Linked DNA regions of Homo sapiens: region 1 is linked to region 2. The links come from fine-mapping of genetic effects on gene expression. A gene starts in region 2. The other region holds a variant in brackets. All regions are shown on one strand. Distances are between the middles of the regions.

Region 1 (5,363 bases), 36 kb before region 2:
GAGGGTGTGGCAAGTCTTGATGGCTGTTTACACCATGTAACCCACACCACAATCACAATTATATAAAGATATTATTAAAGCCAAGAAAGTTCTCCCGGCCCATCCCAGTCAATTCCTCCTGCCCCAGATCACCACCCATCCGACTTCTAGCACCGTGGATTCACGGCGCCTGTTCCAGAGCTTTCTCTAAAGGCATCACGTGGCACGCGCTTCTTTTGTCCTGCCCCTGAAACTCGTCGCCATGCTGTTGAGATTTGTCTGTGTGGTTCGTGTTTCCCTAACTTCTGCAAGGTGTAGCCTCTTTTTTTTTTTTTTTTTTTTTTTTCGGAACTCGTAAAATCTGGCTGGTGCGCCACAAACACAGGCTCATGTTCCCGGGTAGTTTTTCAGTTGGCACACTCATCCTCCTCCAGAAAGGAACTGCGTCACGAGGACACCCTCCTGGAATCCCAGAGCGTGGCACCGGCCAGCTCTTGTGTCCCCAACAGGGGCCCCGCCATGTTCCCTGGTAGTCCGTCTCCCCTCCCAGGCACTGAGCCCAGGGACTGGAAATCCAACCTCGGAGGGTTGCAGACCCGGCAGCTCCGGTGCAAGGCTCTTCCCACCGCAGACCAGGCCTGAGATCTGGGGCCTCTCCTTTGCCAGAGGAAGGAGGAATGAGCTGCCTACCAGGCACTTTGCTAGGACGAATATGTGAATGTCGAGCCTTGCAGGGCGCAAAGTCAATGCACAAAAGCCAATTGTGATTCTATATCCTGTCAACATTCAGAAAATACCACTAAAATAGCATACGGCAAAACATAAAATGCTTAACAAAAAAATTAATGAAAGTGTGTAATGAAAGATCTCTCCAATGAGAACTATAGAACATTGCCAGAAACTTTTTTTTTTTTTTTTTTTTTCAGATGGAGTCTCGCTCTGTCGCCCAGGCTGGAGTGCAGTGGCCTGATCTCGGCTCACTGGAACCTCCGCCTCGCGGGTTCAAGCGATTCTCCTGCCTCAGCCTCCTGAGTAGCTGGGACTGCAGTCGCCCGCCACCACGCCCGGCTAATTTTTTGTATTTTTTGTAGAGACGGGGTTTCATCGTGTTAGCCAGGATGGTCTCGATCTCCTGACCTTGTGATCCACCCTCCTCAGCCTCCCAAAGTGCTGGGATTACAGGTGTGAGCCCCTGCACCTGGCCGAGAAATTCTTTTTTAAATCTGAATCAAAAGAGATACGTATCATGTTCACTGCCTAGAAGACTTGATAGTGTTATAAGTGCTCCCCAAATTCATCTACAGATTCAATGCAATCACAGTCAAAATCCAGCAGGCTTTCCGTGGAAATTGGCTAGATGATTTTTAAAATTCATTTGGAAACACAAATGTCAAAAAAATAAACAAAATAATCTTGAAAAGAGGCCGGGTGCGGTGGCTGATGCCTGTAATCCCAGCACTTCGGGAGGCTGAGGCAGGTGAATCACCTGAGGTCAGGAGTTCAAGACCAGCCTGGCCAACATGGTGAAACCCCATCTCTACTAAAAACACAAAAATTAGCCGGGCGTGGTGGCGGGCACCTGTAATCCAGCTACTTGGGAGGCTGAGGCAGGAGAATTGCTTGAACCCTGGAGGCAGAGGTTGCAGTGAGCCAAGATCGCACCATTGCACTCCAGCCTGGGCGACAAGAGCAAAACTCCATCTCAAAATAATAATAATAATCTTGAAAATAAAGAACAGGCTGAGCATGGTGGATCACACCTGTAATCCCAGCACTTTGGGAGGCTGAGGCAGGTGGATCACTTGAGGTCAGGAGTCCAAGACCAGCCTGGCCAACATGGTGAAACCCAGTCTCTACTAAAAACAGAAAAATTAGGCCGGGCGCAGTGGCTCATGGCTGTAATATCCCAGCACTTAGGGAGGCCAAGGCGGGTGGATCACCTGAGGTTGGGAGTTCAAGACCAGCCTGACCAACATGGAGAAACCCTGTCTCTACTAAAAATACAAAATTAGCCGGGCATGGTGGCGCATGCCTGTAATCCCAGCTACTCAGGAGGCTGAGGCAGGAGAATCGCTTGAACCCAGGAGGCGGAGGTTGTGGTGAGCCAAAATCATGCCATTGTACTGCAGCCTGCGCAACAAGAGCAAAACTCTCTCAAAAAAAAAAAAAAAAAAAAAAAAAGGCCGGGCGCGTT[A/G]GCTCATGCCTGTAATCCCAGCGCACTTTGGGAGGCCAAGGCGGGAGGATCATCTGAGGTCAGGAGTTCAAGACCAGCCTGGCCAACTTGGTGAAACTCTGTCTTTACTAAAAATACAAAAACTAGCCAGATATGGTGGCAGGTGCCTGTAATCCCAGCTACTCGGGAGGCTGAGGCAGGAGAATCACTTGAACCCAGGAGGCAGAGGTTGCAGTGAGCTGAGATCATGCCACTGCACTCCAGCCTGGGCAACAGAGCCAGATGCCGTCTCAAAAAAAAGAAAAAAAAAGGTTTGGATCTTTGTGTGTGTGTGTGTTTGTATGTATATATGTTTAAATGTGTTTATGTATATGTACAGGTATTGTTATATGTTGTATGTAGCATGTTACCAAATTGGCCTATAAGTAAATGGATACTCATAAGTTAAGTCCAAATGTCTATCAGGTTCACATGAATTTTATAATCTTTGGTAAATAAAATGTTTTTTTATTTGTTTGTTTGTTTTTGAGACAGAGTCTTGCTCTGTCACCCAGGCTGGAGTGCAATGCTGCCGCCTTGGCTCACCGCAACCTCTGCCTCCTGGGTTCAAGCGATTCTCCTGCCTCAGCCTCCCAAGTAGCTGGGACTACAGGTGCGTGCCACCACACCTGGTTAATTTTTGTATTTTTGGTAGAGATAGGGTTTCACTATGTTGGCCAGGCTGATCTTGAACTCCTGATCTCATGATTTGCCCGCCTCAGCCTCCCAAAGTGCTGGGATTACAGGCGTGAGCCACCATGCCAGGCCAAAAATAGTTTTTAACTTATTGGTAAAATAAAACTAGAAATATCAGGCTGGGCACAGTGGCTCATGCCTGTAATCCCAGCACTTTAGGAGGCTGAGGCAGGTGAGTCACGAGGTCAAGAGTTCAAGATCAGTCTGGCCAACATGGTGAAATCCCGTCTCTACTAAAAATACAAAAATTAGCCAGGCGTGGTGGCAGGTGCCTGTAATCCCAGCTACTCCGGAGGCTGAGGCAGGAAAATCACTTGAAGCCAGGAGACAGAGGTTGCAGTGAGCCGAGATTGTGCCATTGCACTCCAGCCTGGGCGACAAAGCAAGACTCCATCTCAAATAAATAAATAAATAAATACATACATAAAAATAAATTCTACTTAAAGCCAGGTGTGGTGGCTCACGCCCGTAATCCCAGCACTTTGGGAGGAGGCAGGAGGATTGCTCGAGCCCAGCTGTTTGAGATCAGCGTGGCAACATAGTGAGACCTCGTCTCTAAAAAAATTTTTTAAACCTGGCCAGACGTGGCACACGCCTGTGGTCCCATCCACTTTGGAGGCTGAGGTGGTAGGATGGCTTGAGCCCAGGAGGTTTAGGCTGCAGTGAGCCATGATTGCACCCCTGCACTCCAGTCTGGGCAACAGAGAGAGACCCTGTCTCAAAAAATATATATGTGGGGACCGGTGCGGTGGCTCACGCCTGTAATCCCAGTACTGAGGGAGGCCAAGGTGGGTGGGTCACCTGAGGTCAGGCATTCAAGACCAGCCTGGCCAACATGGAGAAACACTCTCTACTAAAAATACAACAATTAGCTGGTATGGTGGCGCATGCCTGTAATCCCAGCTATTCGGGAGGCTGAGGCAGGAGAATCGCTTGAACCCAAGAGGCGGAGCTTGCAGTGAGCCGAGGTCACGCCACTGAACTCCAGCCTGGGTGACAGAGTGAGACCCTGAAAAAAAAATAAAAAAATAAAAATGAAACCCACTAACTAGGTTTTGTTAAAGATTTACAGGAGCAAGGGCCGGGCATGGTGGCTCACGCCTGTAATCCCAGCACTTTGGGAGGCCAAGGTGGGCACATCATGAGGTCAGGAGATCGAGACCATCCCGGCTAACATGGTGAAACCCTGACTCTACAAAAAATACAAAAAAAAAATTAGCCGGGCATGGTGGCAGGCGCCTGTAGTCCCAGCTACTTGGGAGGCTGAGGCAGGAAAATGGCGTGAACCTGGGAGGCGGAGGTTGCAGTGAGCCAAGATTGCACCACTGCACTCCAGCCTGGGCGACAGAGCGAGACTCCATCTCAAAAAAAAAAAAAAAGATTTACAGGAGCACTGTGACCTGACCAAGGACAGAGAAGTGGCCACAGCCTCCTCAGACCCTCGCTGGCACCCAGATGTGTGTGGTCCTCGGTCCCTCCCACCCTCGCTGGCACCCAGATGTGTGTGGTCCTCGGTCCCCTCCTGATCCCAAGCCCTGCACATAGTTTCTCCACATCCCCCATCCCATGAAAACCCTCCTGCCAGCATGGAAAATGTAAGATACTGGTTCAGGACACTAGGTCTCCAGGTCTCCATCTTCTCGGTTTGCTGGCTCTCCAATTTCTTTTTTTTTTCTTTTTTTTTTTTTTTAATTTATTTTTTTATTGATAATTCTTGGGTGTTTCTCACAGAGGGGGATTTGGCAGGGTCATGGGACAATAGTGGAGGGAAGGTCAGCAGATAAACAAGTGAACAAAGGTCTCTGGTTTTCCTAGGCAGAGGACTCTGCGGCCTTCCGCAGTGTTTGTGTCCCTGATTACTTGAGATTAGGGATGGGTGATGACTCTTAACGAGCATGCTGCCTTCAAGCATCTGTTTAACAAAGCACATCTTGCACCGCCCTTAATCCATTTAACCCTGAGTGGACACAGCACATGTTTCAGAGAGCACAGGGTTGGGGGTAAGGTCACAGATCAACAGGATCCCAAGGCAGAGGAATTTTTCTTAGTGCAGAACAAAATGAAAAGTCTCCCATGTCTACTTCTTTCTACACAGACACGGCAACCATCCGATTTCTCAATCTTTTCCCCACCTTTCCCGCCTTTCCATTCCACAAAGCCGCCATTGTCATCCTGGCCCGTTCTCAATGAGCTGTTAGGCACACCTCCCAGACGGGGTGGTGGCCGGGCAGAGGGGCTCCTCACTTCCCAGTAGGGGCGGCCGGGCAGAGGCGCCCCTCACCTCCCGGACGGGGCGGCTGGCCGGGCAGGGGGGCTGACCCCCCCCACCTCCCTCCCGGACGGGGCGGCTGGCCGGGCAGAGGGGCTCCTCACTTCCCAGTAGGGGCGGCCGGGCAGAGGCGCCCCTCACCTCCCGGACGGGGCGGCTGGCCGGGCGGGGGGCCGACCCCCCCACCTCCCTCCCGGACGGGGCGGC
Region 2 (5,363 bases):
TAAAAATACAAAATTAGCCGGGCGTGGTGATGCATGCCTGTAATCCCAGCTACTCGGGAGGCTGAGGCAGGAGAATTGCTTGAACCTGGGAGGCGGAGGTCGCAGTGAGCCGAGATCACGCCATTGCACTCCAGCCTGGGCAACAATAGCGAAACTCCGTCTCAAAAAAAAAAAAAAAGAAAAAGAAAAAAAATTAGCCAGGCATGGTGGCGGGCGCCTGTAGTCCCAGCTACTCGGGAGACTGAGGCAGGAGAATGGAGTGAACCCGGGAGCTTGCAGTGAGCCGAGATCACACCACTGCACTCCAGCCTGGGCAACAGAGCGAGACTCCGTCTCAAAGAAAAAGAAAAAAAGTAGGGGAGGGGGGATTAACTTCACATGAGCGGGCTTTCCGCAGATTTTAAATGTTGTCCATATATCACTTTAACGAAAAGTAAAATGCAAACAGAAAAACAACCAACTTTCTTTCCAGCATGTGTACAAGCCAGCCCTCCCCCACCACCCAGCCAAGAAGCAGAACCACCCGATCATTCACAGGGCAGCAGAGTGCTGATCCCCAGGCAGCTGAAGGCGCTAGCCGTGGCATCCCCAAGAGGTGCCCCACCCCGCACACGGCCTGTCCCCTCACCTCGCCCTGGCGCCTGGTCTTGGGGGAAGGACTGAAAAAGTTGTGCAGGACAGAGAGCTCTGTACTGAAGAGAGCGCTCTCCTTCTCCAGGATGTACTGCTTCAGGAGTGGGGAAACCTCGTCCCCGAAGAGGGCCTGGTTGTCTTGCCAGATCTGCCGCTTCACCTCCACGGCGCAGGCTCGATACAGCTCCTTGTCAGCCATAACCAGCTTCAGTTTTTTCTCCGGAACCTACATGACACCACAGGCTGCCTGTGAGTGGCACCTGTGTCCCTGGGTCTCCTTCAAGACAAGCCAAGAGGCCTCAGCCCCGCAGAGACCACCTCGAGCTAAGCTCCACCCCACAGGGCACCTATGACTGGTTCCCCGGCCCCAGCATGTCAGACAGACATGCTAAATACCAACAGCTCTTTCCCAGGAGGGGCCCCACACCCTAACTCCAGTGCTAAGGTTCGGTCTCCACGCGGCTCATGTGGGAGAAGTCAGCACAGAGCTCACCATGGACAGCACTTGGGCAGGCAGCACAGGAAGCTCCCGGAGCTAGGCGGCCACCGGAACTTCCACTAACCAAGGGCATGAGAGTGGGCGGACGGTCCACGCCATCAGGGTTAGGGTTAGGGCCCTACCTTGGGCAGGTGCTTCATGACGCACATCACCACGGGCTGCAGGGACGGCATCTTCACCAGAGAAAAGCTCTTCTCCAGAAGGTCTTCCAGCTTCTTGTACCTGGAACAACTCACAGGATTGATGGTGCAGCGATGCGCCAAATCGCAGCAGCTACCTGCCTGTCCCTACACAGATAACAGCTACCAGGACAAGCCTCCACGCCCAGGACACATGGGTCAAGGGGTCACTCAGACACAGGCCCAGGCCACCTCTGGGAGCAAGGATGTGGAGCCAAAAGGACAATAAATGCCCCTGAGTCGATCCAAGGCTGAGAGGCCGGCTGCACATCTCACCTGCCCACCCCTCCCGCTGACCCACCTTTCCTCAGCCTTCCCCTCCGAAGCGATGGCTGACACTCGCTCCAGCAGCTTGTCCCGCAGCTCATCGAATACCGACTGGTGGAACTCCAGCCGCGGCGTCCCGTGCAGGTCCAAGAAGGGGAGGGCTGACTGAAGAGATGGCAGCAGCACACCATTCTCTGTCTGAGGAAGCCAAGAGAAACCTCAAACGCAGCCCAGTGCGCCCGGGCACCCCGAGGTCCTGAGAGCACAGGGAGGCACGCACCCAGGTGTTCCCAGCCGTGCTGGCGGTAACCGCAGCCACCGAAAGCCACCCAGCCGTCCAGCAAAGGGGTGCTGGCTCCGGACTCCACCCCCAGAACAGGACTCAGCCACCAGCAGAAAGCCGGAAAACTTCCGGCGCCTCCGCCAGGCCCGACTCCCGAGCAGGCGGCCCGGCCCTCCAACTGGGCTCCCCCCGCCCCGGGGGCCGCCCCACCTGGAACTGCTCGATGGCCTTGAGCGGCTCCGTGCAGTTGGTCAGGGTCTCCTTCAGGTCCTCGCCGTTGGCCACGCCCAGGTCCTGCAGCCCCGCGAACATGGCCGAGGCCCCGGCCACCGCCCGGCTAGGCGCCCCATCCCCAGCCCGTTCCCCCGGCGCCGCCGCAGACACCCCAGAAGCCCGCTCCGCCGGGCCTCGGGGACCGCCCGAGCCCCGCTCCCCGGCGCCCTCCAGCTCGGCCAGGTCCCGCCCGCCGCGCGACTCCGCGCGCGTCCCGCAGCCGCCCACTTCCGCCCCGCACCGCCCAGGTCCGCCCGCCAACCGGCCCCCGGGAAACGCCGCCGGGGCCGCGCGCAGGTTCCTGGGAGCAGCGCCCTCACCCGGCGCGAGAGACCCCGCCCAGCCAGCCCAGCGCGCATGCGCCCACCCGGTCCCGCCCGCGCCCGGGCTTTCTGGCAGAAGAGGGCGGGTGAGGGCGTGGGGGGCGGACTCAGGGTCCGTCTGCTCCGGGAACGGACGTCGTCGCAGCCGAGTGAATTTCGTGTACATAAGCGTGGAAAACGCTCTTGCAGATCTCGCGGCAGCCACGCGCAGCGGGGACGTTTTGCCGGGGGTTGAGCTCCCCGCCCCTCTGCCCCGCAGGGGCCGGACACAGGCGCAGACTCCCTCCTGAGCGTGGGTTCCTCCGCGTGAAACGGGCACGAAGCCCACCCCGGCGCTGTCGCCAAAACTGAGATCTGAGCGCCTTCAGGGGGCCGGGGCCTGGCGGAGACCGGGCCCGCAGCGGGAGCGCGAGCGACGGCCGCCCTCCCAGGCACCGGGAGGCTGTGGCGCCCACCGAGCTCCGCGGAGCCGTGAAGGAGAGTCCAGGTTCCACAGTGTCCCTTCTTATCCCAGGCGGGTGGGCTCCCCGGGCCTCCCCGCCTCTCCAGCCCGCCGCCCTCCCGCAGGCTGTGCCGCGCCAAGCCCCCTACACACACCCTCTCTCTTTTCGGTCTCCGCTGCTGAAATTTTCTCTAGAAATTTCTTTCCCGCTGCCCAGCAAACTCTTGCTCTTCCTTGAAGGCTTCTTCCTCCACCACCTCCTCCAGGAAGCCCTCCCTCCTCAGCCCAGCTGGAGGAGATCGCTCCATCTTTCCTGCCGCTCCCACTCCTAGCTTTGGGTCTCACCAGGGGTGCCTGGTGGTGCAGCCGTGAGCAGAGCTCCTGTTCCCACAAGCCGGGCCGAGCTCCCAAGGCCATGGCTACCACAGCTCTCTTGCCGCTGGCCAAGTTGGTCAGCCCTAGGGCGAGGGTTCCAGTGCCTTGATCCAACCCCCAGCTGGTTCGGTGGCAGAGGAGGACAAGGGTCACAGCACACACACAATCCTGAGCCTGGGATTCCTCTCTGAGAAAGGGGGTGGTGCTGAGGCCACAGAAGCAGCTGCCCAGAGCCTTTTTGAAGGGGTTGAGCTCTGGGCCTGGTCTGGGTCCTGGGTCTGGGGAGGACCTGGGGAGGTGCGGGTGACGGCACCGCAGGTAAGGCTCCTGCAAGGTGGCAGCCTTGGGGCCCGACCCTGGGTAGGAGGGCAGGCCAGTGATGACAAGGGAGGCCCCAGCCAGGCGAAGTTGCAGGCAGGGGCAGTGCAGGGTCCCAGCAGGTGAAGGCCCCGGGAGTGGAGTCTGCAGGGCCCTGGGCCAGAGTGTTCAGGGCACAGGTGACTAAGCCCAGCCAGGTCTTCAGCTCAAGGCCTAGGGGAAGTGGGGCTGGGCCCTGGTGAGCAGATCCCTGGGCCCTTCCTGAGGTCTGGCCAGGCCGACCCCACCTGGAGGTGGCGGCTCAGGGCATTTGACGCCTCCTTCCCAGTTCCCTGGCTCGGCAAGCAGCTGACCCTCAGGTGGACAGCAGCTAGACCAGGCCCCTGAGTGACACGGCTGGGTGGGGGTGTCCCACAGAGCCCACCTCCCATCTCGCTCCAGGCTAGAGCTCAGGGTCAGTCACAGGCTGCCACCCTAGAGAAGAGAGCACCTTTCAGGGGCAGCTGAATGGAGACCCCTCAACAGGGAAAGCCGGAAATGACCCAGCGGCAGCCATATCTCTAGGACCGCCCCCGGGTGAAGGACAGACAACTGCACACCACAGAGCTCGGGAAAACCAACAGCATCTCAGTGTAGCGGGGAGATGGGCAGATGGGGGATCCAGGCTGGGCCAGCCTTGTCCACAGCCCATAGAAGGGTTGGCCAGCCAGAAGGGTGCATCGGGGTGCCCAGAGGGTCAGAAGGCCAGGCTGGGGCCCCAAGTCCCAGGGGAGGCCTGGGAAAGCCCCGGGGGAGGCCATGGTTCCACTCGGTGGCCGGGCCAAGCAGGTTGTGCCCAGCTGGCTCTAGAGCGTGCAGAAGGGGCCTGTGTCGTGGCGCTTGGGTCTGCGTACACCCTGGATGACCACGCCAGGCGCCGAAGGGAAGCGTGAGTTGCAGTCCTCCACGTGGTAGGCGGCTGGGCCAGGGGTTCGGGCTGCCGAAAGAGAAGGCTGGGAGCCCCACCCAGGTAGCAGCCCCAACTCAAACCTGGCTCCCAGTTCCCACCCCCGGCCCCTGAACCCTTGTCCTCACATTGCCCACCCATGCCCCATCCCTAGCCCTCTTCTCTCCAGGCCTCCTTACAGGTGCTGAGCCAGGAGGTGAACGCAGGGGAGCGGCTCATCGAGAAGGCCGGCGAGCGGGGGCTCTGCAGGCGGCTCCCAGGAAGGATATTGTAGGTGTTGGGGCCAGGGCATCTCTTGCCAGGTGCCTGCAAAGAGGCCTGAAGCAGGGACTGGGGCTGCACCCTGAGGCCCAGCCCCCTAGCCCCAGGCAGCCCTAGGTGGGTGTGGCCTTCAGGTGTCTTGGAAGCGGAGTGGCAGCCTCTGAAGCTGAAGGCGGGGAAGGCGGGCCGGCTGAGCAGCTGGTAGTGGGCTGGCGAGGGCCACTGCGAGGGGGTAGGAGACGGGCTGCAGGGCAGGGTGCTCCCCACGGACCCTCAGCCAGCCCCCCTTTGGCCCCACTGGAACCCCCAGCCCCCTGCCTGCGTGGACTCCCCGCCCCCTTCCTGCCCAGCCCCCAACCTTTTGCTCTTGGTCGAAGTCAGCTTTCTGCGTGAAGGGGCTTTCGCTCTGGAACCACAAAGTCTGCCATGCCCTGCGGCCACCGCCCTCTGTAGTTGGAGGATGGAGAGAGAGAAGGCTGGGAGCCCCACCCAGGTGACAGTCCCCACTCGAACCTGTCTCCCGGTTCCCACCCTCGGCCCCTGAACCCTTGTCTTCACAATGTC

Direction of the effects. Alleles are on the strand shown, and positions count from the first base shown. SD is a standard deviation of normalised expression in the study named.
With allele A in place of G in region 1, the expression in monocytes after LPS of the gene that starts at base 2,356 in region 2 is lower (moderate effect, 0.71 SD a copy in Kim-Hellmuth 2017).

What was found. PIP is the estimated chance that this variant, and not a neighbour inherited with it, causes the effect.
Region 1: its variant is fine-mapped to the expression of NELFB in monocytes after LPS (Kim-Hellmuth 2017, PIP 0.95).

What each region holds. Positions count from the first base shown.
Region 1 is chr9:137,288,372-137,293,734 of GRCh38, reverse strand. No RefSeq gene overlaps it. Among named protein-coding and RNA genes, the nearest start is that of NRARP, 11 kb to the left of the region's middle. The variant A/G (reference allele first, on the strand shown) is at 2,174.
Region 2 is chr9:137,252,320-137,257,682 of GRCh38, reverse strand. NELFB (negative elongation factor complex member B) reads right to left here and starts at 2,356. Exons shown (of 13, transcript NM_015456.5): 1 at 2,072-2,356; 2 at 1,613-1,776; 3 at 1,255-1,354; 4 at 629-859. The coding sequence starts at 2,317. STPG3 (sperm-tail PG-rich repeat containing 3) reads right to left here. Exons shown (of 6, transcript NM_001004353.4): 4 at 5,158-5,246; 5 at 4,718-5,021; 6 at 4,200-4,568. The coding sequence ends at 4,438. STPG3-AS1 (STPG3 antisense RNA 1) reads left to right here and starts at 4,186. Exons shown (of 4, transcript NR_038389.1): 1 at 4,186-4,520; 2 at 4,708-4,808; 3 at 5,177-5,292. It also overlaps a transcript of CIMIP2A not described here. RefSeq lists enhancers at 1,053-2,000, 2,001-2,948 and silencers at 1,959-2,018, 2,059-2,238, 2,249-2,618, 2,809-2,988.